Homo sapiens: one gene and its partners. The protein of the gene in region 1 purifies or fractionates together with the protein of each later gene. This does not show direct contact. Each region holds a gene or a part of one and is shown in the gene's direction. Other genes may lie near its edges.

Evidence for each region.
Region 2: the proteins of PTPRU (region 1) and PLOD1 purify together in Homo sapiens (affinity purification with mass spectrometry, with the first as the bait; one large-scale study listed by BioGRID). This does not show direct contact.
Region 3: the proteins of PTPRU (region 1) and FUT8 purify together in Homo sapiens (affinity purification with mass spectrometry, with the first as the bait; one large-scale study listed by BioGRID). This does not show direct contact.
Region 4: the proteins of PTPRU (region 1) and MACO1 purify together in Homo sapiens (affinity purification with mass spectrometry, with the first as the bait; one large-scale study listed by BioGRID). This does not show direct contact.
Region 5: the proteins of PTPRU (region 1) and OPA1 purify together in Homo sapiens (affinity purification with mass spectrometry, with the first as the bait; one large-scale study listed by BioGRID). This does not show direct contact.
Region 6: the proteins of PTPRU (region 1) and UNC45A purify together in Homo sapiens (affinity purification with mass spectrometry, with the first as the bait; one large-scale study listed by BioGRID). This does not show direct contact.
Region 7: the proteins of PTPRU (region 1) and CSE1L purify together in Homo sapiens (affinity purification with mass spectrometry, with the first as the bait; one large-scale study listed by BioGRID). This does not show direct contact.

What each region holds. Positions count from the first base shown.
Region 1 is NC_000001.11:29,278,022-29,281,521, forward strand, and holds part of PTPRU (receptor-type tyrosine-protein phosphatase U isoform 1 precursor), read left to right. Parts: intron 1-990; coding exon 991-1,100; intron 1,101-1,434; coding exon 1,435-1,636; intron 1,637-2,017; coding exon 2,018-2,120; intron 2,121-3,500.
Region 2 is NC_000001.11:11,951,717-11,955,216, forward strand, and holds part of PLOD1 (procollagen-lysine,2-oxoglutarate 5-dioxygenase 1 isoform 2 precursor), read left to right. Parts: intron 1-906; coding exon 907-1,019; intron 1,020-3,113; coding exon 3,114-3,177; intron 3,178-3,500. UniProt on the Homo sapiens protein: Part of a complex composed of PLOD1, P3H3 and P3H4 that catalyzes hydroxylation of lysine residues in collagen alpha chains and is required for normal assembly and cross-linkling of collagen fibrils.
Region 3 is NC_000014.9:65,716,730-65,720,229, forward strand, and holds part of FUT8 (alpha-(1,6)-fucosyltransferase), read left to right. Parts: intron 1-3,500. UniProt on the Homo sapiens protein: Catalyzes the addition of fucose in alpha 1-6 linkage to the first GlcNAc residue, next to the peptide chains in N-glycans.
Region 4 is NC_000001.11:25,482,897-25,486,396, forward strand, and holds part of MACO1 (macoilin), read left to right. Parts: intron 1-1,219; coding exon 1,220-1,378; intron 1,379-2,716; coding exon 2,717-2,899; intron 2,900-3,500. UniProt on the Homo sapiens protein: Plays a role in the regulation of neuronal activity.
Region 5 is NC_000003.12:193,641,708-193,645,207, forward strand, and holds part of OPA1 (dynamin-like GTPase OPA1, mitochondrial), read left to right. Parts: intron 1-1,057; coding exon 1,058-1,138; intron 1,139-1,267; coding exon 1,268-1,342; intron 1,343-1,665; coding exon 1,666-1,737; intron 1,738-1,820; coding exon 1,821-1,920; intron 1,921-2,267; coding exon 2,268-2,398; intron 2,399-3,500. UniProt on the Homo sapiens protein: Dynamin-related GTPase that is essential for normal mitochondrial morphology by mediating fusion of the mitochondrial inner membranes, regulating cristae morphology and maintaining respiratory chain function.
Region 6 is NC_000015.10:90,941,785-90,945,284, forward strand, and holds part of UNC45A (protein unc-45 homolog A), read left to right. Parts: intron 1-652; coding exon 653-821; intron 822-1,127; coding exon 1,128-1,298; intron 1,299-3,107; coding exon 3,108-3,279; intron 3,280-3,500.
Region 7 is NC_000020.11:49,087,812-49,091,311, forward strand, and holds part of CSE1L (exportin-2), read left to right. Parts: intron 1-197; coding exon 198-295; intron 296-1,435; coding exon 1,436-1,586; intron 1,587-1,726; coding exon 1,727-1,935; intron 1,936-2,930; coding exon 2,931-3,028; intron 3,029-3,125; coding exon 3,126-3,211; intron 3,212-3,500. UniProt on the Homo sapiens protein: Export receptor for importin-alpha. Mediates importin-alpha re-export from the nucleus to the cytoplasm after import substrates (cargos) have been released into the nucleoplasm.

The sequences.
Region 1 (3,500 bases):
GTTGGCCAGGCTGGTCTCGAACTCCTGACCTCAAGTGATCCGCCTGCCTCGGCCTCCCAAAGGTGCTGGGATTACATGCGTGAGCCACCGTGCCCAGCCAGTTGTCCTTCTTAAGAGCTACACTCGAATGCTATCACAGGTCCAAAGCCTTTCCCTGGGTTCCTACAGATTCCAGTTACCACTAAGCTCCTTGGTTTATGGCTTTGTCTTGCTGCCGCACGTGCACAGTTTTCTGTTCTGCACAGCATTGGCCTAGATTCAAAATTCAGCTCCTTCTTTACTTTCTGCTTTTCTCTGCCTTAGGACTTCAGCTTCCCCATAGTGGTTTATCAAGGTATTTTCCCAAGCAAAGATCATTCTCTTCCTAAATGACACTCCTGTGCCTGCCATTAACAGTATACATTTACACAAGAAAAACAAAACAAAGCCATGCCTGCAAGTGTTAATGCTAAAATGTTAACAGTATCTCTGGGTGATACAATTGTAGATGCCATTAATTTTCTTTAAGCTCATTTTGATTTTCTACATTGAACATGTCATTTATGTAATTAGAAATTTTTAGACGAGAAAATATCGCCACCCATAATCCCAATACCGCAATGCAATTGCTGTTTTCATTTCTCTGGCCCATGTGCATATTTTCTGAAAACTACCCAACTGGAACAAAATTGGAGCCTTCAAACGTATTTCTCTCCTGAATGCAACCTACACAGTAATGAAAATGCCAGCTATCCATTTTGAGTACTTAGTAATAGGTTGAACCATATGCAATTGCTGATGTTTGCCTTGGGGCTTTATGTACATCACATCATTTGAGTCCTGGCTTGAGAGGGGTTATATCATTCCCACTTCACAGCTGAGTTAAGTAAGGTGCAGAGAGGCTGAATAGTCCATGAGAACCAGGTAGGAAGCGGCAAGGCTGGAATTTAAACCCAGGTGTCTGGCACCAAAGCCCACTTTCCCCTGGCCCCTGCTGCCTTTCCCTTGCAGTGCCCAGTGGGATTGCAGCCGAGTCCCTGACCTTCACTCCACTGGAGGACATGATCTTCCTCAAGTGGGAGGAGCCCCAGGAGCCCAATGGTCTCATCACCCAGTATGAGGTGGGTTTGGGACCCTATTACAGTGGGGGACCCTGGTGGAAGGTGAGAGGTGGCCCTCTTTCTCTCTGCTGCTACAGTAGGAGGTGCATGGGAGGACAGATGTGATTGTCATAGTTTCTTCAACTATGGCCAGGTCTGTGCCCTGTGTATTCTAGAGGAGGGTCCTGAAGGCAGGAGGGAGAGCCGAAGATGACTAGAAGCCTGGCTTGATGGCATCCATAGTCTCCTTTGCTTAGCCTTATCTCTCACTTCCCTGGGACATGGTGGGTGGAGGCTGCTGGTCAGGGATGCTCTGACCATCCAGTGCCCACCTGCCTGCCAATCCTGCCCCCAGATCAGCTACCAGAGCATCGAGTCATCAGACCCGGCAGTGAACGTGCCAGGCCCACGACGTACCATCTCCAAGCTCCGCAATGAGACCTACCATGTCTTCTCCAACCTGCACCCAGGCACCACCTACCTGTTCTCCGTGCGGGCCCGCACAGGCAAAGGCTTCGGCCAGGCGGCACTCACTGAGATAACCACTAACATCTCTGGTGAGCCCCACCTGACCCGGCCCAGCCTCTTCGGAGGTGGCCCAGAATCCCAGGGTTCCATGGGCAGAAGGGAAATGGGGGGCATCCTGGGGGTAGTTACAGAGGGCCCCTGCTGAGATAAATATGCCATTTAGGAGTTAAAGTCAGGCTCAGGGAGGATGAAGTCAGAGGAGTCAGGAGACTGGTCAGTGGAATCAGAAGATTGAGGTTGGGGCTGGTGCCTGAGGTCAGGGGCCAGGGTAGCTCAGGTCATGTCAGCAGGAACAAAGAGGCTAAGGCTGAAGTAGGGGAGATCTGAGGACTGTGGTCAAGGAGGCTGGAAGCCTGGTCTTCCTGGTCCAGTGGCCAAGCTCCAGCTTGTGACCCTGTCCCCTTCTCCAGCTCCCAGCTTTGATTATGCCGACATGCCGTCACCCCTGGGCGAGTCTGAGAACACCATCACCGTGCTGCTGAGGCCGGCACAGGGCCGCGGTGCGCCCATCAGGTGGGAAAGCGGGGACGGAGGGGTGGGAGTCCAGGGCCTTAGGAAAGAGGCCCCTCCTCTGACCCAGAGCCCCATCCCAGGCCAGCTCACCCTTTTCCTCCCTCAGTCTCCCACGCAGGGCTTGGAGTGTCTGGAGGAGATTGTTCTGTGATGCTTGGCAGGCAAGAAGCCTGCAGTCCCTCCCCTCTGAGGCCATGGGTCTCAGATGGTGACTGTCAGGAGGACCCTGGATAGGTCCAGCCTGGAGAGGGGACTGTCCAGGCCTGTCCAGGGGGCCTTTCCTCAGACACCTTGGAGAAGTGAAACTCTGGGGGCCTTATATCATCCCAGCCTTTTCCTGGAAGCACAGAGATGGGCTTTCTAGAAGGCTGGGGCAGCCAGCCAGATAGGGCCATCTCTCTGGAATGGCTAGGAGCTTGGCTTCTCCACCTCCTCTCCCCAGAGGAAGCTGGGCTTGCTGGTGCCGTGGTGGCTGCCTCTGCTGGGGAGAGGGTGCTGGAGACAAGACTGTGTGTGTGTGTGTGTGTGTGTGTGTGTGTATGTGGGATGTGAAACTGGGTGTGTCTTTGTGATAAAGACATGGGATGTGTGGTGTGAGTGTGTGTGAGAGGCGTATATGGGAGACATAAGTGTGCATGTGTGTGAGAGTGTGAGGGTGTTTGTGCAACTGTGTGCACGTACTGTTAGCCAGACCCCGTGCTAGGGGCTTTATCTGCATGAAGCCATTTATCCTCATGGCAGCCCTGTGGCATGGGTATTATTACCTTCATTTTACATATCGGGAAACTGACTCAGAGCCTGAATCACTTGCCCTCAAGGCCACACAGCTAGTAAGTGGTGGAGCTGGGATTTGGAAGCCAGGTCTATCTGCTGTGCCTGTACCTTTTCTAGAAGTTATAGAGCCTCCCTGCCCTTCTGGTCCACCCCTTCCTTCCACGAAGGTACATGCTCTGGGAGAGGGTGACAGCCTTTAGGTGGGGGGGGTGTGAGGGTCCTAGTCAGTTCCCTAGGAAGAGAGTGGGCTGCCTGGGTGACCATGGCAGTCCCTCACCTCCTCACTCCCCACTGTATCCTCTCCTCTTCTGCTTTGTCTTCCCTGTATTTGCCACTGCAAATCCTGCCCTGGGCTGATTCCCAGACCCTCAGGGAAGACCCAGGAAAAAGTCACGGGGTCTGCAGGGCCTTTTGCCTGTTGCTAGAGCCTCAGGGCCCTTATGCCACTGAGTCTGGGATGGGTTGGGAACCCTTTCTTTCTTGTCCTCTTGAGGGATCCTGTGAGCAGCACTGGTCAGGGTCCCTCAGGATGATGATTGCAAGGCTAGGTGGGGGCAGGCTTGGTGGGAGGGGAGCGGCAAGATGGCTGCATGACCCTGGGCATGT
Region 2 (3,500 bases), about 17 Mb from region 1:
AGACCATCCTGGCTAACACGATGAAACCCCGTCTCCACTAAAAATACAAAAAATTAGCCAGGTGTGGTGGCAGGCGCCTGTAGTCCCAGCTACTCGGGAGGCTGAGGCAGGAGAATGGCATGAACCCGGGAGGCGGAGCTTGCAGTGAGCCGAGATCGTGCCACTGCACTCCAGCCTGGGCGACAGAGCGAGACATTGTCTTAAAAATAAATAAATAAATAAAGATGCAAATTCACACACATCACTTAATGACTTTCCACTGCACGGAGAATAAAATCCACAGGCCTCTTTTCAACCTTAGATGGGGATCTGCCATCTGCCCTCAACAGACACTTTTTTCCACTGGTCCAGAGTAAGCACAGTCCAGATGGCCTTGCCCTGGCCCAGGCCCAGGAGTAGGGATGTCCCATTGCTCTTGTGGTTGCTTGTCACCAGTCTGTACTCTAGCCAGGGGCCCATGTGGGCTTCCCCACTATGCCAGGTCTCAGCCCCCAAGGCACTCTGTGAGCTTGGCCCAGCCTTTCCCTTCTCTGGGCCAGGTTTCCCAGATAACTGTAAAAAGGGACACCAGGCCTGTATCCTCCCAGCCCTGCTCTCCAGGGGCTCCTCGTACAATCCGTTTCTTCACCACCTATATGGTGCCCAGCACTGAACAGTACAGCTTAGTGGGCACCATTGGTCTTATTCTTGGGGTCATTAGGAACTCATTAATAAGTGACATTCACTGGCAGCCCCATTTCCAACCTGCAGCCCCACCTCCTGTCAATTCAGGAGGACTTCTGAGAGGTGACAGGGTTTGTGGGCATATGAGTGGAGGTGGATAAGAGGGAAGGGTGGGAGGAGGCCCCTGACTTAGAGGCTGGAAGCTAAGGGTCCGTCTTGGTGTCCCCACCCACCAACCTTCAGGCTTCATCGGTTATGCCCCCAACCTCAGCAAACTGGTGGCCGAGTGGGAGGGCCAGGACAGCGACAGCGATCAGCTGTTTTACACCAAGATCTTCTTGGACCCGGAGAAGAGGGTAAGAGGCAGTGGGCGGGCCAAGGAGAGGGGGCTGGGGATCCACCGGCCAGGCTGCACGGGAACAGCTCCTCTCAGGCCTGAACCCCTGGGTTGGTGTCTTAGTCTATGCAGGCTGCTCTGACAAACTGCCATAGGCTGGGTGGCTCCCAAACAACGGATGTGGATTTCTCATGGTTCTGGAGGCCGGAAGGGTGAGATCACAGTTGGGTTCTGGTCAGAGCCCTCTAACTGGTACAGACACAGCTGACTTCTCTCTGTGTCCTCAGATGGTGGAAGGGGGTAGGGAGCTCACTGGGGCCTCATTGATAAGGACACTAATCCTATTTTTTTATTTTTGGGATGGAGTCTCACTGTATTGCCCAGGCTAGAGTACAGTGGTGCGATCTCGGCTCACTACAGCCTCTACCTCCCTGGTTCAAGCGATTCTCGAGCCTCAGCGTCTCGAGTAGCGGGGACTACAGGCGTGCACCACCACGTTTGGCTGATTTTTGTATTTTTAGTAGAGACAGGGTTTCACTACGTTCGCCAGGCTGGTCTCGAACTCCTGTCCTCAGGTGATTTACCCGCCTCGGCCTCTCAAAGTGCTGGGATTACAGTCGTGAGCCACCGTGCCCGGCTGTCGGGTCTTAAAGAGGCAGCATTGTTCATTGGTTCAGAATAAGGACTTCAGGGCCAGGCTGCCTGGGTTCCAATCCCAGCTCACCATTTACTAGCTGTGTGACATTGGGCAACTTCTCTGTCCCTTGTTTTTTCCGTTATGAAATGCAATAATGGGCCAGACCCAGTGGCTCATGCCTGTAATCCCAGCACTTTGGAGGCCAAAGCGGGTGGATCACCTGAGGTCAGGAGTTTGAGACCAGCCTGGCCAACATGATGAAACCCTGTCTCTACTAAAAATATAAAGATTAGCCGTGCGTGGTGGTGGGTGCCTGTAATCCCAGCTACTCAGGAGGCTGAGGCAGGAGAATTGCTTGGACCTGGGAGGCGGAGGTTGCAGTGAGCCGAGATTGTGCCATTGCACTGCAGCCTGGGTGACAAGAGCCAGACTCCATCTCAAAAAAAAAAGCAATAATGATAATACTTTCTCACAGAGATGTTGTCAGGATTAAATTGATTAATATATGTAGAATAGTTTATTTATTTATTTGAGACAGGGTCTCACTGTCACCCAGGCTGATGCGCAGTGGCAGAAACATAGCTCACTGCAGCCTCAGCCTCCCGGACTCAAGCGATCCTCCCACCTCAGCCTCCTGAGTAGCTGGGACTATAGGCCTGCGTCACCATGTCTGGCTAATTTTAAGATTTTTTTATAGAGATGAAGTTTTGCTATGTTGCCCAAGCTGGTCTCAAACTCCTGGGCTCAAGTGATCCTTCTGCCTCAGCCTCCCAAAGTGCTGGAATGACAGGAGTGAGCCACCGCACCCGACTCGTGTAGAATATTTGGAGTAGCGGCCAGGTGCGGTGGCTCACACCTGTCATCCCAGCACTTTGGGAGGCGGGGGGCGGGGGCGGATCACCTGAGGTCAGGAGTTCGAGACCAGCCTGCTCAATGTGGTGAAATCCCATCTCTAGCAAAAAAAAAAAAAAAAAAAAAAAAAATTAGCTGGGTATGGTGGCACATGCCCGTAGTCCCAGCTACTCAGGAGTCTGAGGCAGGAGAATCGCTTGAACCCAGGAGGCGGAGGTTGCAGTGAGTCGAGGTCGTGCCATTGCACTCCAGCCTGGGTGACAAGAGCGAAACTCTTTCTCAAAAAAAAGAATATTTGGAGTAGCTATGTGCGTGTAGTGGAGTGCTTGGCAGGTGCTGGTTACTCTTAACGGCCGTCATTGTTGTAGGTGAGCCGGCTGCATTCTTAGATTCCTTCCAGTTCAGAGTCCCTGGTTTTCTGTGAGTAGAGCCACTAGACTGTAGACCCCAGGAGCTTGGCTGCTGGCCTTCTCTGGGCACCTAGCTGCCCTGATGTGACGTGGCAGAGTCGGTGTGGGGAATGAGGGCTGAACTTGGGGACAGATTCCCCACACTGGGTGAGATGTAGCCCCAGCCTCCCCCAGGGCCTGTCCCTGCTGCAGTCTGGTACCTTCTTTCCTGCAGGAGCAGATCAATATCACCCTGGACCACCGCTGCCGTATCTTCCAGAACCTGGATGGAGCCTTGGGTGAGCAGCCCCCACGGGGAGGGGTGGATCCTCAGAGGGGTGATAGGAAGAATTCCAGGCAGGGCCCGAGCCCAGGGAGGAGAAATGGGCTGCTTCTTTCTGGCCATTGTGCTGAGAGGTCACTGGCCTCATCCCCAGGTCCCCAGGGGCCACTTGGATATCCTGGCGCAGAGCCATGTCTCTCTTGGGGGCGGGGGACAAGTGAGCATTCAGCCTGGGAGGAGTTGGGGGATGCGCACAGCAGGTGCTGGACCCCCTGCCCTGCATACCAGGTCCTTACAGGTGGGCCCTCTTTCCCCACTTTCCCGGCCCTCCCACCTTCC
Region 3 (3,500 bases), on another chromosome or scaffold:
CGATGGTCGCTGTCTCTTTGGAGCTGTTGGGTACACCTCCCAGATGGGGCAGCCAGGCAGAGGCACTCCTCACTTCCCAGACGGGGCGGCCGGGCAGAGGCGCTCCTCACTTCCCAGACGGGGCGGCCGGGCAGAGGCGCTCCTCACCTCCCAGACGGGGCGGCCGGGCAGAGGCGCTCCCCACTTCCCAGATGGGGCGGCCGGGCAGAGGCACTCCCCACTTCCCAGACGGGGCGGCCGGGCAGAGGTGCTCCACACTTCCCAGACGGGGTGGCCGGGCAGAGGCGCTCCACACTTCCCAGACGGGGTGGCCGGGCAGAGGTGCTCCCCACTTCCCAGATGGGGCGGCCGGGCAGAGGCGTTCCCCACTTCCCAGACGACGGGCAGCCGGGCAGAGGCGCTCCTCATTTCCCAGATGGGGCGGCCGGGCAGAGGCGCTTCTCACCTCCCAGACGGGGCGGCCGGGCAGAGGCGCTCCTCACCTCCCAGACGGGGCGGCCGGGCAGAGGCGCTCCTCACCTCCCAGACGGGGCGGCCGGGCAGAGGCGCTCCTCACTTCCCAGACGATGGGCGGCCGGGCAGAGGCACTCCTCACCTCCCAGACAGGGCAGCCGGGCAGAGACGCTCCTCACTTCCCAGACGGGGCGGCCAGGCAGAGACTCTCCTCACCTCCCAGATGGGGCAGCTGGGCAGAGGTGGCTCCTCACATCCCAGACAGGGCAGCTGGGCAGAGGCGCTCCTCACTTCCTAGACGGGGCGGCCGGGCAGAGGCGCTCCTCACCTCCCAGACGAAGGGCGGCCGGGCAGAGGCGCTCCTCACATCCCAGACGATGGGCGGCCGGGCAGAGACGCTCCTCACCTCCCAGACGGGGCGGCCGGGCAGAGGCGCTCCCCACTTCCCAGACGGGGCAGCCGGGCAGAGGCGCTCCCCATTTCCCAGACGGGGCGGCTGGGCAGAGATGCTCCTCACTTCCCAGACGGGGCAGCTGCCAGGCAGAGGCGCTCCTCACCTCTCAGACGGGGCGGCCTGGCAGAGGCACTCCTCAGTTCCCAGACGGGGCGGCCAGGCAGAGGCGCTCCTCACCTCCTTCTTTGTCCCTTTTTATAGTTTTTTTTTCTTGAAATCTATTTTGTCTATTACAGGTATAGCTACTCCTGCTCTTTTTTGGTTTTCATTGGCATGAAATATCTTTTTCCATCCCTTTATTTTTAGTCTGTGTGTCTTTATAGGTGAAGTATGTTTCTTGTAGGTAACAGATCATTGAATTTTGTGTTTCTTAGCTATTCAGCCACTCTATGTCTTTTGATTGGAGAATTCAGTTTGTTTACATTTAGTGTTATTAATAATAAGTAAGATCTTACTCCTGCCATTTTGTTATTTGTTTTCTGGTTATTTTGTGGTCTTCTCTTCCTTCTTTCCTTCCTTTCTATTTTCCTTTTAGTGAAGGTGATTTTCTCTGGTGGTTTGTTTTAATTTCTTGCTTTTTATTTTTTGTGTATTCATTGTATGTTTTTTGATTTGAGATTATCATGAGGCTTGCAAATAACTTATAGCTCGTTATTTTAAACTGATGACAATTTGGCACCGATTGCATAAACAAACATGCAATCAAAAAGAAGTCTAATAAATACTCTGTACTTTGTCCCCCCAACTTTTTAACTTTCTGTTATTTCTATTTATATCTTATGGTACCAAGTATGTCTTGAAAAGTTGTAGTTATTTTTGATCGGTTCATCTTTTAGTCTTTTACTTAAGATATCAATAGGTTACATACCACAATTACAGTGTTATAAAATTATGTGGTTTTTTGTATGCTTAGTATGACCAGTGAGGTACCTTCAGATCATTTTTTAATTGCCCATTAACACCTTTTTTCCTTCAAATTGAAGGATTCCCCTTAGCATTTCTTGTAGAACAGGTCTGATGTTGATGAAATCTCTCAGCTTTTGTTTGTCTGGGAAAGTCTTTATTTCTTCTTTAAGCTTGAAGGATGTTTTCACTGGATATACTATTCTAGGGTAAAAGTTTTTTTTCCCTCAGTAGTTTATGTCATACCACTCTCTTTTGGCCTGTAATGTTTCCACTGAAAAGTCTGCTGTCAGACATATTGGAGCTCCATGGTATGTTATTTATTTTTTCTTTTGCTGCTTTTAGGATCCTTTCTTTATCCTTGACCTTTGGAAGTTTGGTTATTAAATGCCTTGAATGGTAGTCTTCTTTGGGTTAAATCTGGTTGATGTATAACTTTCTTGTACTTGAATATTGATATCTTTGTCTAGAATTCGGATGTTCTCTGTTTCATCCCTTTGAATAAACGTTCTGTTCCTATCTCTCTCTGCCTCCTTCTTAAGGCCAATAACTGTTAGATTTGCCCTTTTGAAACTATTATTTAGATCTTATAGGCATGCTTCATTGTTTTTCATTCTTTTTTCTTTTGTCTCTGTTGACAGTGTATTTTCAAATAGCCTGTCTTTAAGCTTACCAATTCTTTCTTCTGCTTGATGACTTCTATTAAGAGACTCAGTATGTCAGCTGCATTTTTCAACCCCAGAATTTCTGCTTGATTCCTTTTAATTGTTTCAACCTCTTTGTTAACTTTATCTGATAGGATTCTGAATTCCTTCTTTGTGTTATCTTGAACTTCTTTGCATTTCCTCAAAATAGCTCTTTTGAATTCCCTCTCTGAAAGGTCACATATCTATGTTTCTTCAGGATTTGGTCCCTGGTGCCTTATTTAGTTTGTTTTTCAAGGCCATGTTTTCCTGGATGGTCTTGATGCTTGTGGGTGTTCATTGGTGTCTGGGCATTGAAGGTATTTATCGTAGTCTTCACAATCTGAACTCTTTTGTACCTGTCTTAGAAAGGCTTTCCAGATATTTGAAGGGAGTTGGCTGTTGTGATCCAGTTTTGGTCATTGCAGCCATATCTACATTAGGGGGCACCCCAAGCCCGATAATGCTGTGGTTCTTACAGACTTGCAGAGGTACTACCTTTGTGGTCTTAGATAAGGTCTAGAAGAATTCTCTGGATTACCAAGCAGAGACTCTTGTTCTCTTCCCTTACTTTGTCCCAAACAAACGAGTCTCTGATTCTGTGCTCCAAGCCTCTTGTAGTTGGGGGAGTGGTGACACAAGCACTTTTGTGGCTACCACCACTGGAACTACACTAGACCAGACCTGAAACCAGCATAGCACTGGATCTCACCCAAGGCCCAGTGTAACCCCTACCTGGCTACCTCCTGTGTTGGCTCAAAGTTCTAGGGCTCTATAATGAGCAGGTGGCAAAGCCAGTCAGGCTTTTATCCATCCCTTCAGGACAGCAAGCAAGTTCCCCTGGGCCCCAGGCAGGTCCAGAGATGCCATCTGGGAGCCAGCATCTGGAGTTGGAAACCTTAGAACCCTATCTGGTCCTCTATTCTCCTGCAGCTGAGCTGGCATCCAAACCATAAGGCAAAGTGCTTCCCACTTTTCACTCCTCTTTTCATAGGCAAAAGAGTCTC
Region 4 (3,500 bases), 3.8 Mb from region 1:
TTGTTATTATTCCTTCTGGCATATATTTAATCATGGCCTTCCTTGTCTTATTGTTTAATCATTTAAATTATGTATTTCTTGGTTCCTATTTCTTTGTTCCTAATTGTGAAGTTTTCCCATGAAGAAAGAGACTTGATTTTATAGTTTTCGTTTGTTTGTTTTTTGTTTTTTGAGACAGAGTCTCACTCTTGTCACCCAGGCTGGAGTGCAGTGGCATGATCTCAGCTCACTGCAACCTCCACCTCCTGGGTTCAAGTGATTCTCCTGCCTCAGCCTCCTGAGTAGCTGGGATTACAGGCACGCGCCACCATGCCCAGCTAATTTTTGTACTTTTAGTAGAGATGGGGTTTCACCACGTTGGCCAGGCCGGTCTTGAACTCCTGACCTCAGGTGATCCGCCTGCCTCGGGCTCCCAAAGTGCTGGGATTACAGGCATGAGCCACTGCGCCTGGCCGATAGTTTTTGTTGACCATTTTCAGCACTACATATGCATAGTAGGTCTCCAATACCTGTCACTTAAAGTGAAACTATTACTGCAGTAAAGAAAATAGATGGAACAAGAGTAAGGAATTGACGAGAAAAGATAGGCTTCATTTTACAGATGGAGTTCTCTTATGATTCTTAGAGCATGTAATTTGTTCCTTTTTTCATTGTTATTGAGTCTCGTGAGCTCTTCTGCCGCAATCACCAGAGTTGTGAACGTCATTCAGCAAGGATGCTGCAATTTCTGGAGGTCGTCGCAGACCGTTTTCTTCTAGGCCCATGGTGGGACGCAGTCTCAGACAGTAGATTCTGATTTATCAAAATATCACAAAGCATTAAGTGGTAGGTCATGTGCTAGTTGTTTGAACATATTTCCCTTGCTGAGGGCATGAAAAGCCACCAGAAGGGAGCCTTTAGTCTTCAGCCACCCTCTCTGCTGTCCCTTTCTCCTTTATCAGCAGCTCGGATGGATATTCACAAGCACCATACTCACCTGTCACTATTCATAAACAGGGGGAAGTTGAAAGTTACACCCCAGTAGGAAGAGGTAGGGACCCAGGTGGAATCATTCAACAAAATTAACCCAGTTGCAGACAGGAGTCCTCATCATGGCAGGAACTGCCAGCGGGGTCCTTTTTCTGCCATTCACCCAGCAGTCCAGGACCCCCACCAGGTCCCTCCCAGCTCTGTGGGTGCCCTCACCTAGATGAAAATGCTGCATTTCTCATTCTCCTAGGCTGGAACAAGACATTAAAAAGTTAAAGGCTGACCTGCAAGCCAGCAGACAAGTGGAACAAGAGCTCCGCAGTCAGATCAGCTCCCTTTCGAGCACCGAGCGAGGGATCCGCTCAGAAATGGGCCAGCTTCGGCAGGAGAACGAGCTGCTGCAGAACAAGTACGTGCACCTTTCAGGCCTTTGGCCGTAAGCCCGGCAGCTTCACTGCTTCTCCTGTTGCCAGGGGTTGGAGCACAAGATTTATGGTGACAGAGACCTGCTGAGAGGTTTTTAAATAAAATGTTTAAAATACTTTATTTAGTACCAGATATTCAACATGTTTATAAAATCTATAAAAACTTATTTCATTGCCACAAAACAGTTTATTAATATTACTGTTTTTGTCTTCTCTCATTTAATAACTTCTTAGTTTAAAATAGTTATTGAGTTTTTGGATAGTAAAATTGACAAGAAGTAGTTCTGTCACATTTTGAAAATTTTGCTCCTTTGAGTGAAAATTTCTAGAGGATTTGACTATATTTACTTTTATTTCCAGAACTAAAAGATGACATTGAACTTTGATTTTATTTGAAAAGGCAGGCAGAAAGCCAGGTCTTCTGTGTGAATTCATTTAGGCTTTTGATTAGTTCATTCTGGAATTACTTCTTAACTCAGTGTAGGTCTGTCCTTTTTTCTTTTTTTAAATCTCCCAGCAATGTGTGCCCGTGGTAGTGATGATCATTACAGGCTGTTGGCTTTCTGGGCTTTCCCTGTTGAAAGAGGAGTTCAACATTTTTAAGGAATGTAACTCAAAAGCTAGGGCATTACAGGCAAATAACCTCTCCATTGCCTCTGACCAGCATTTGTGGTGGTTCTAGCATTGATATGTAGAGAACATCCCAGTGATAAACTCACCTCATGCTGATAGGTAAAGCTGGGGGTGGTAGTAAGCAGGAAATATGGCTGAAATTTCTATCTGAAATTAAGCATCCTGTGACTCTAAAAGAGGATTTGGGGACACTGTGAGCAAACATCCTGAGCTGGAAAGGAAAAGCTGTAGTAGGCTACAGCAAAATTGTATTCAGGAAAAATAAAAACCTTCCCCTTTCCACCCCTTACCTTAGTTTCACTGGGGCTGGTCCCATCAGTGGTTCTTTGGTGGGACTGAAGTTCTTTCAGGGTGCTCTGGAACATTAGAATTAGTTCTACAATTATCTTCCCCTCTGTTCAAAATTTGTTTTACCCTGTTTTCTGGATGACCTTTTGTAGATCACTTACTTGAACAGAGCAGAGGCTAGGTCTTAATCTCTGTTTTGTAAGGCAGCTTGTTTATTGGTGTTTAGGAATTATTAAAGAATAACAGTGTGTTTTCCTCAGGCATTCTGGGCATTGACATTTTTGATTTGCTGTTCAAACCTCCTGTTTAATTGGCCTTAAGGTGATAAAGAGATGTTTCTCAAGGGTTTATAGTGGGCATTTGTAATTTTAAGACTTTATATGACAATCATTTCCATATAGGTTACATAATGCTGTGCAAATGAAGCAAAAAGACAAGCAGAATATCAGCCAGTTGGAGAAAAAGCTAAAAGCTGAGCAGGAAGCCCGAAGTTTTGTAGAGAAACAGTTAATGGAAGAGAAAAAGAGGAAGAAGTTAGAAGAAGCCACTGCTGCCCGGGCTGTTGCGTTTGCTGCTGCATCTAGGTATGTCCATGTCACCTGAGTGTTTAATCCAAGGTTGGCTTTCCTTTACCAACAAAGACATGGGAATTTGGTGCCTTGGGCAGGATTGGACGTACAGCAATCATGCACGGATGGATTGCTTTTAAGTACTGTTTTATTAACTGGTTTAAACTCCATGTGTGCAAGCTTGCACTATCTTATAACAGCTTTATCCCTCAGTGACCTCATCTATAAAGTGGGATGAGGGAATCACCATGTTTCCCATACCTGGGAGGCAAAGTACTGCTCATAAAAAGGTTTCCAGTCACTTTTTGTCAGACTGATGATTACTAAATGCATTGAGAGATTCTATCTGGAAGTTCGTTCCCTTTAGAGAGCTATCATTACTCTCCACTCTTAGGTATATGTGTTTCTGAAGTTTTTATCTTAAAATGGAAGAAAGATAAAATCTTGGTTGCCCAAGCACTGTGTACTGGCTGCTCAAATGGATATCAGCAAACTGTCAAATGAAATGGAAAAAAAAAGTGAAACATAAGTCTCTACTAGATGGAATTACATTTATGGCATAATGAAAATTGGGGACTACCTCCTATACCACTGGAAAGTACCCCTGTGTGCAAGT
Region 5 (3,500 bases), on another chromosome or scaffold:
CTCAGTAGAAGGAATTGTATTTTTAAAGTAAAATAACTATAGAGAAGCTAGAAAGGTGTCAATTAGGCATTTAGAAGTTCTTGTGAAACCACTGACTGTTAATATACATTGCTATAACATTTCTTGGCTGGGTGCAGTGGCTCATGCCTGTAATCCCAGCACTTTGGGAGGCTGAGGAGGGCGGATCACCTGAGGTCAAGAGTTCAAGACCAGCCTGGCCAACATGGCGAAACCCTGTCTCTACTAAAAGTACAAAAAACTTGCCAGGTGTGGTGGCGGGCATCTGTAATCCCAGCTACTCGGGAGGCTGAGGCAGGAGAATCACCTGAAACCGCGAAGTGGAGGTTGCAGTGAGCCGAGATCATGCCACTGCACTTCAGCCTGGGCGACAGAATGAGACTCGGTCTCAAAACAAACAAAAAAACAAACAAAACAAAATTTCTTACCCAAATATCACTCCTTGAGTGAAGCCTGTCGTAGCTCCCTTATCATCAGTTCCATTCTCTTCTGTGGCACCCTAGGTTTTGTCACTCTCTTCTATTATGTCTGTGTATATTTCTCCCAGCATGTGATGAGGTCTAAAACTGGGACAGTCAGCTCTGTGTTTCCCCACCTACAACACCTGACACATAGTTCACTCTCTATAGAGGTTGAATGAATGAATTGTCCTTTACCTAAATTCATCTTTGAGGTTAAATGCAAGGTTTCCTTTTAGTGTTTCAAGTTTTAGAGAGATGATTTTGGGCTTAGTGCTGTGTATAGCATTGACTGGGGAAAGAAAGAGGCAGCAGCATTTTAGGTCATAAGCGATATAAAGGAACCAGCATTCTTGTTGGGAAATCACAACATATATGACATATATACAAACAATACAAATACAAAATTATTGTCTTGTCAGAACTACCATGTTGACAGCTTCAGGGGGTGCCCCAGCAGTAGTGTGAAGGGACTCTTGGATTTGTGCAATGCAGTAGCCCTGTCTAGACCACATACGGGCTGTGGGAATTAATATTACTTATAAATACATCATTACCTCTCAGTTTTCTGTTACTATCAGGTGACTCTGAGTGAAGGTCCTCACCATGTGGCCCTATTTAAAGATAGTTCTCGGGAGTTTGATCTTACCAAAGAAGAAGATGTAAGTAAAATTCATCTAAGGTTGATATGTGTAATTTTATAACCTGGATGAGCTTATAAAAGACAGTTAAAGAATATTTGTGAATTAAGATTTTCTTAGATTTTCTTAGGATTTTGTGTTTTCCATTAGCTTGCAGCATTAAGACATGAAATAGAACTTCGAATGAGGAAAAATGTGAAAGAAGGCTGTACCGTTAGCCCTGAGGTAAGGGTTGCAATTCATTTCAGTGACGTTTTATGGAAATTAAATGTTTATGATTTCAAATAAATCAAAATCTAGGTATTGATGTTTAGATTGCTGCTATCTAGATATGTAGAGCTTTTAAAAAAAAATCCAAATAATATATCATTTTGTGGGTAATTTTCCAGAATAATTACTTTTAGGATCAGAGAAAGAATACCATTTTTGTGAGCGTCTTATCTGAATGGATGAGATATAGAATTTTTAGAATACATTTCACCAAAAAAAATTCTTGACAAATTCCCCCCAAACTTTAGCATTGTTTTATTTTTATTTTTCCTGAGTAGACCATATCCTTAAATGTAAAAGGCCCTGGACTACAGAGGATGGTGCTTGTTGACTTACCAGGTGTGATTAATGTAAGTATATACAAAACATGTATTTTATTTTATTCTTATTGTGTGAAGCATTTATAATGACATTTAAAACCTTTTTCTTTAAGACTGTGACATCAGGCATGGCTCCTGACACAAAGGAAACTATTTTCAGTATCAGCAAAGCTTACATGCAGAATCCTAATGCCATCATACTGTGTATTCAAGGTAAATCATATCAAAAGATTTTAATGTACTGATATGTTTTCTTCTTTAGCAATCCAAGCTTTGCATTAAATAGTTTGTGTTATGTAAACATACAAGATAAATGCATTTTTGCCTTCTCTTCGTATTCATTTTATTAGTAAATTAAATTGAAGTTGAAATTATTTTGATAAGTTTTACATAAGCATCATTGAAATTTTTATCGGCTAGGATTTCTTTTTAGTAAATAACGTAAATGTATTAAAATCTTTCTTGCTATAATGTAGACACAGGGGTATAATTTGTACTGAGTTTTAAAAGTCTACTTTACATCTTAAAATTCCACAGTGTCATTTTTTTATTTTTTTCAGATGGATCTGTGGATGCTGAACGCAGTATTGTTACAGACTTGGTCAGTCAAATGGACCCTCATGGAAGGAGAACCATATTCGTTTTGACCAAAGTAGACCTGGCAGAGAAAAATGTAGCCAGTCCAAGCAGGGTGAGGTCAAATTCTTTGTTGCGAGAATAGATTCTTTGTAAAAGCTCCAGCTGTGATAGGGATTTGTTATTTAAAAAAACAACAACAACAACAAAAAAACACCTTACAACTAAGATTTATTACAATGAAAGGATAAAGCAAAATCACAAAAGGAAATGGTACATGGTATGAAGTCTGAAGGAAACCAGGCTCACGTTTTTCCACTAGTTCATTCCCAGTAGACTCTACTGGGCACATTTAATTCCTCCAGCAACAAGCTGCTTGTTAGAGACTCAGCTCCTAAGGTTTTCATCGGAGGTTAGTCATTTCGGCACCCTCATGTACCAAAATTATTTCATACTCCCAAAAGGAAAGCATATGTTATAATTAAACCACATTACTTCAGTAGTGAGCCACTGTTATATAAGGAAAGGTTTATATCAGTGTAGGGAACTGTTTACCAGTTAAGTTTTCAGATACCAGCCAAAGACAGGCAGGCCTTTTTAAGGACAGTAGTCTCAGGCCTGCTGTGTTAACCCTTTTCTAGGTAGCCACCATAACCTCTGTTCTGCTTTCTTTTTAAGGGTAAGGCCTGCCGTGGCATTAATGGTTCTGATATGGAGAAGGGGAGAAGTGAGGTAGAAACAAATTTCTGTGGCCTCCTCCCCATCTTTCTTCATTCCTTTCATTTCTTTCAACTCTAGGATAGTGAGTTTATATTTCTTCTGAGATGCAACTGAAGCTTATTTCAGTCCTTTTTGTATAAAAGATTCAGCATTAGCTTAGGTGTAACTTGTCTTAAAGGAGGGATTCTCATCCCATTATTAATCTGAATGGGCTTCAGGGGGTAGAAACTCTAACATATGTGAAAGGTCTCTATGCAAATATGCATTTTTCTGGGTACATAGTCTTTTTTTTTTTTTAGTCACATTTAGAAATGGATTTTTGATCCTAAAAGAGTTGAGAAGCAGTGGATCCAAATATTAAAGAAGAAGGTGGGAGGGGAGGAAGGAGTAAAAGAAGACAATCCAGCTTGGTTAGAATTTAGATATTTGAAGAAAGTATGGAAAAATAATAATAGCTACCATTTATTGAGTGCTTCATGCCTGGCACTGTATCATAT
Region 6 (3,500 bases), on another chromosome or scaffold:
CCGTCTCTACTAAAAATACAAAAAATTAGCCGGGTGCGGTGGCGGGCGCCTGTAATCCCAGTTACTCAGGAGGCTGAGGCAGGGAAATGGCGTGAACCTGGGAGGTGGAGCTTGCAGTGAGCCCAGATCGCGCTACTGCACTCCAGCCTGGGCGACAGAGCAAGACTCCGTCTCAAAAAAAAAAAAAAAAAAGAAAAAAGAAAGAAACTGGGTGGAGAGGTCTCACGGGCCCATTCCGTGTACGTGACGTCCACATCCCCAGGGTGTGGAAAGAACCTCAGGGTTTAGACTGGGGAAGAACTAGACCATTAAGCCTGGTGGTCAGGTAGCTTCGTCTAGGTATAGGTCTTTTTCTTGGGGAGGCATGAGCTAAGGCAGCTGCTCCCAGGGCTGCAGTATACTATGTCTTCTCTGGCACCAAGGAGAGGTAGTAGGGCATTGCCGTGTAATGTCTCCTTTAGGAAATCTTTCTAACAAAATTATCCTGCCATTACCCTGGGTCATGCCATCCATTCTGTGTTGTTTTCACCTGGAGCTGGGCCTTCCACCCAATTCTCTCCTTCTGGCCGTATCCTCTAACTCACAGTTAGGGATCTCTGTGGCTGCCCTTCAACAACTGGAAGCTTCCTTCTGTTTACCTCTCCCACCCCAGACAGTGGCAACCCTGAGCATACTGGGAACTCGGCGAGTAGTCTCCATCCTGGGCGTGGAAAGCCAGGCTGTGTCCCTGGCTGCCTGCCACCTGCTGCAGGTTATGTTTGATGCCCTCAAGGAAGGTGTCAAAAAAGGCTTCCGAGGCAAAGAAGGTGCCATCATTGTGGGTGAGTGGAAGCAGGTCTGGGGTCTTTTGGACGTTACTGTCATGGAAGGGATGGGGCTGAGCCAGCCAGGCCAGTTTTTTGGGGACCAGACTTGCAGCTGCAGGTTGTTTGGAATACGGTTTGGTGACATTATTTTACTCTAGATTCTCAGCAACCAAGGTGCCTCAGGACAAAGCTGGAGCTCAGTCTGGAGCCTGGGATGCGGATCCCCCCTTCCCTGTGTCTCCCTGGTTTGTTGGAGAAGTTGAAGGGTCAAACTGGGCTGGGCTGCTGTGGAGCCCACTGATGTCTTCTTGTTGTTGCCAGATCCTGCCCGGGAGCTGAAGGTCCTCATCAGTAACCTCTTAGATCTGCTGACAGAGGTGGGGGTCTCTGGCCAAGGCCGAGACAATGCCCTGACCCTCCTGATTAAAGCGGTGCCCCGGAAGTCTCTCAAGGACCCCAACAACAGCCTCACCCTCTGGGTCATCGACCAAGGTAGGTGATATAGTTCACAAAAACTTGCTTCAGCAGCTGAAGTTTGTTTATTCTTAGGAGTAATAAGAAAAGTTGTGAGTGGGGCCAGGCATGGTGGATGACACACTTTGAGAGGCAGGGGGTCACTTGAAGCCGGGAGTTTGAGATCAGCCTGGGCAACATAGCGAGACCCTGTCTCTATGAAAAATTAAAAAAAATTAGCTGGGCATGGTGGTGTGCATCGGCAGTCCTAGCTACTCCAGAGGCTGAGGTGGGAGAATTACTTAACCCTGGGAAGTCAAGTCTTCAGTGAGCTGTGATTGTACCACTGCACTACAGACTGGGCAACAGAGGGAGACTGTCTCAAAAAAAAAAAAAAAAAAAAGAAAGAAAAGTTGTGATTATCTCCAGCCACGTGTCTGCACTGAAGTGCGTCCTGTGGCCCAGGAGGATGCTGGAGCTGAGAAGATCTTCCAGAGCAATGGGATTCAGCTCTTACAACACCTTCTAGACACAAGAGCTACCCTTAGGGGGCTCAAAGTTAGACTCTTCTATCATATGCGTGTGCACATACATGCACATTGAGCGGGCCTGCAAGCAGGTTAGCAGAGAGGCTGGATTAGCTTTCTGTATTTTTTTTTTTTTGAGACAGAGTCTCACTCTGTCGCCCAGGCTGGAGTGCAGTGGCGCGATCTCAGCTCACTGCAGCCTCCGTTTCCCGGGTTCAAGCAAATCTCCTGCTTTAGCCTCCCGAGTAGCTGGGATTATAGGCACGCATCAGTATGCCCGGCTAATTCTTGTAGTTGTAGTAGAGATAGAATCTCACCATGTTGGCCAGGCTGGTCTCGAACTCCTGACCTCAAACAATGCACCCACCTTGGTCTCCCAAAGTGTTGGGATTACCGTCATGAGCCATTGTGCCCTGTTTTTTTTTTTTTTTTTTTTTTTTTGTTTGAGTGAGCATGTATTACTTCTATACTCAGAGGAAAAAATAACGGTAGATATATCAATTCATCTCTCTTTTCCCCTAAAAGATAAATAAGAGCTGGGCGTGGTGCCTCACGCCTATAATCCCAGCACTTTGGGAGGCCGAGGTGGGCAGACCACAAGATCAGGAGTTTGAGACCAGCCTGGCCGACATGGTGAAACCCCGTCTCTACTAAAAGATACAAAAAATTAGCCAGGCATGCTGGCATGCACCTGTAATCCCAGCTATTCTGGAGGCTGAGGCAGGAGAATCACTTGAACTCAGGAGGCGGAGGCTGCAGTGAGCCGAGATCGCGCCATTGCTCTCCAGCCTGGGCAACAGGGCGACTCTGTCTTAAAAAAAAAAAAGATAAATAAGAAAAGCTTTGCAAAGGCCTTGCATGAGCAGGGCCTTTCACAATGGTCCTATGAGGTGTGGATATCGTGTTCACAGTGGTCCCACGAGGTGTGGGTATCGTGTTCACAGTGGTCCCACGAGGTGTGTCTATTGTGTTCACAGTGGTCCTACGAGGTGTGGGTATCGTGTTCACAATGGTCCTATGAGGTGTGGATATTCTTTTCCCCTTAGTTTTACAGATGAGGAACCTCAAAAGCTCCAGAGCGTTTGGCCCCAGGGGCAGGGCTGGCATGCAGGCCTCACTTCTGAGGTCCTTCCCGATCCTACAGCCGCCTCCCTTAGGTAGCAGATCAGCTAAGCAGATTCTCCGGGCTGCCCTGGACACAGTTGTCAGAACTCTGTAGCCTTCTTGTCTTGCTTTTCTCCACATCTCCTAGGAAGCCTGTTTCTTTTACTTGTAGGGGTTGGAACTAGTGTTCTACTGTCTAAGCGGGGTGTCTTTACAGGTCTGAAAAAGATTTTGGAAGTGGGGGGCTCTCTACAGGACCCTCCTGGGGAGCTCGCAGTGACCGCAAACAGCCGCATGAGCGCCTCTATTCTCCTCAGCAAGCTCTTTGATGACCTCAAGTGTGATGCGGAGAGGGAGAATTTCCACAGACTTTGTGAAAACTACATCAAGTAAGGAAGTCTGTTTCACCTCCCGTTGCCAGGGATTCTAGCGAAAAAGTTCTGACTCCTTGAGGAGGGGCAGAAATGAAAGGTTTCCAGCAGAAACAGTAATCTTGGGGAGGACTAGTTGGAGGCTGAACAAAGGGAAAGTGGCCCCAAGGCCCACTTCCTGCTCCAAAGTGGCCTCCGCAGGGAGGTTCTTTCTCAAGTCAATGTTCCAATAATGCAAC
Region 7 (3,500 bases), on another chromosome or scaffold:
AATTTTGTTGCCAACCCGTCCTAATTTTAAAAGGAAGGGAAATTTAGATTATTTTTAAATGTAGAGAGCTATCTCGGGGTTGTCTAAGCATCTTAAAATTTAGTTGATGAATTAGTGCGCTTTTTTCCCCCCAGTCGCTCTCTTATTCTGAAGTTTAACTAAACTCTATTTGTTTTTGCTGTTTTTGTATTTTACAGCTATCATGAGAAGTTTTTCTCTCCTACAAGAAGCCATAATCCCCTACATCCCTACTCTCATCACTCAGCTTACACAGAAGCTATTAGCTGTTAGTAAGGTAATAGAGCCAATTTTGAAAGTGGGGTTCCTTTTTTATTTGCTCCAAACTGTTTGGGCCTCAGAACTCTTTGGCATTACGTGAAGCTTTAGAGAAGGTCTGTGAATTCTTCCTGACCAGCCACTAATGGACTTTTCTGAAAGTGTGGGCATGCTGTTAGATTGGAGACGTAATAGCAGTCACCTTTAAGTGTGTGCTAGAAGCTTGAATACATTTTCATTCTCATTACAAAAGTAACATGTTTATTGTAGAAAAAGAAAGTGCAGATGATCCAAAATTACCTTAAATGGAGTTAAGTAGGCTTTGCACTAAATGGATATAAAAGAGGCTGTCTGGACTTCTATGAAATGATGATTAAAATCCTTTGTGTTGTCTTTTCTTCCTTACTCTTATTTCTCAAAAGGAAAGTTCACTCTGATCAAAATTTTACAGATACTTAGATTCATGTTTATTAACACTAAATTTTAGAAAATAAATCCGTTTAAGGCTGACAGAATTCCTTTTTAGATGCTATTCTTGATCTTATGAGAATTAGATCAATTCATAGGAAGTGTTGGAGGGATTTTGGAGAACAGAGTGATTATTATTCAACTGAGTTAGGGCTAAGGGTCTTTGGACTACTTAGGGCCTTGAGGGATGGAGCGGGGAGGGAACCCAAGTCTCCGCCTCCCATATGTATTACCATCTCATGTTCTGATTGAGTTAGATTTGTATGCTAGTAGCCTTCCAAGAACTTGTTTAAAGAAAAATGGGGTTTTGTTGCTTAAAAAGAACATAAAAAACTACTCATTTGGGGGATTATCAGTAAGTAGACATAGACATTGAGGCCCACAGAAGTTAAGGCTAGTGGCATTACTAGGACTTAGTATTTCTTCTCTGCGAGGGCACGTGGGCTTAAGACAAGTTACAGCTCTGGGATCTGAGGTTTGTATAAGCAACTCTGTAACTCTGAAGTATTTTTTTCATGGTGGACTTTGGGCCATTTAAAAAAAAATTCAAATGAACAAGCACTAGGGTATAATTGGTGTTTTTTTCTTAATTTTGATTTTTAAAAAATAAGATGGCCTCTATTTTAAATGTGTTTTATAAAGGTTAGGTGTGGATTATTAGCATAATTAGGTTTTTTTTTTTTAATTTCAGAACCCAAGCAAACCTCACTTTAATCACTACATGTTTGAAGCAATATGTTTATCCATAAGAATAACTTGCAAAGCTAACCCTGCTGCTGTTGTAAATTTTGAGGAGGCTTTGTTTTTGGTGTTTACTGAAATCTTACAAAATGATGTGCAAGGTAAGTTAACGGAAATTATTTTCTTTGTAATGGAATAAAATTAACATGGCTATAAAATGCAGCCCACCTAAGCGATGTGGGCCTTTTGTGTCAGTCATTCCTTCTGAAGCTCACAGCTCTGTTTTTACTTTTATCAACAGAATTTATTCCATACGTCTTTCAAGTGATGTCTTTGCTTCTGGAAACACACAAAAATGACATCCCGTCTTCCTATATGGCCTTATTTCCTCATCTCCTTCAGCCAGTGCTTTGGGAAAGAACAGGAAATATTCCTGCTCTAGTGAGGCTTCTTCAAGCATTCTTAGAACGCGGTTCAAACACAATAGCAAGTGCTGCAGCTGACAAAATTGTGCGTCAGGTTTTGATATAACTGTAATTTTATAAAGTAGCTTGGAGAAACTGGGGATGGCAGATGTTTGAAATTTTTTTATTTAAAATAAATTTAAGGCTGGGGGCAGTGGCTCAAGCCCACCACTTTGGGAGCCTCTAGTGGGAGGATCCCTTGAGCCGAGGAGTTTAAGACCAGCCTAGGCAACGTGGTGAGATCTATCTCTACAAAGGAAAAAAAAGCTTTTTAATTAGTTGGACACAGTGGAGCATGCCTGTGGTCCCATCTACTTGGGAGGCTAAGGTGAGAGGGTCGCTTGAGCCCAGGAGTTTAAGGCTGCAGTGAGCCATGATCTCACCATTGCACTCCATCCTGGGCAACAGAGCTAGACCCTGTCTCTTAAAAAAAATAATAATAATAATAACGGAAATAATTAGTAGAAAATGTTATGGTATGTTTTATCAGAATTCTGTATCCTTTAGTTATTTATATCCATGATGGAAAATTTTAAAAACAGAGCCAAACAGGTTGATTTTAAGAACTTAACTTTGGTCGGGCGTGGTGGCTCACACCTGTAATCTCAGCACTTTGGGAGGCCGAGGTGGGCAGATCACCTGAGGTCAGGAGTTCAAGACCAGCCTGGCCAACATGGCGAAACCCCGTCTCTACTAAAAATAAAAATTAGGTGGGTGTGGTGGCACGTGCCTGTAATCCCAGCTACTCAGAAGGCTGAGGCAGGAGAATCGCTTGAACCTGGGAAGCAGAGGTTGCAGTGAGCCAAGATCGCCCCATTGCACTCTAGCCTGGGCAACAAGAGTGAAACTCCGTCTCAAAGAAAAAAAAAATTACTTTAATGGCTACGCGGGAGGAATTGTTCCCCATATGTTTCAGAAATAATTAAAGAGAAAAGGATAGATTATTACAGTATGAACTCTGTTTTAAGACATATATCATGTTTAACTTTTCGAATAATTATTCCTGTTAACCATTTTCTGTTGGATCTCATTTCTTAACAGCCTGGGTTACTAGGTGTCTTTCAGAAGCTGATTGCATCCAAAGCAAATGACCACCAAGGTTTTTATCTTCTAAACAGTATAATAGAGCACATGCCTCCGTGAGTATGACTAGAACTTTGTGCATTTATTTAGAAATTTTGTTAGGTGCTCAGAAAAGTCCTAAATTTATATTGTTGATTTTTTTTAATTCTTTAGTGAATCAGTTGACCAATATAGGAAACAAATCTTCATTCTGCTATTCCAGAGACTTCAGAATTCCAAAACAACCAAGTTTATCAAGAGTAAGTAAAATCATCTGGATGTTCTACAGAAGTAATGAAAGAAGGTAGCTAAAACCCTTAGACTTTATGGTTGCAGATACATTTTTTATCCGTTTTAAACTTTATGCAAAAAATACTTGGCCACGTGTGGAGGTTCATGCCTGTAATCGCAGCACTTTGGGTGGCCAAGGGAGGCCGATCGCTTGAGCTCAGGAGTTCAAGACCAGCCTGGGCAACATGGCGAAACCCTGTCCCTACGAAAAGTACAACAAAATTAGCCAGGCATGGTGGCATGTGCCTGTAGTCGCAG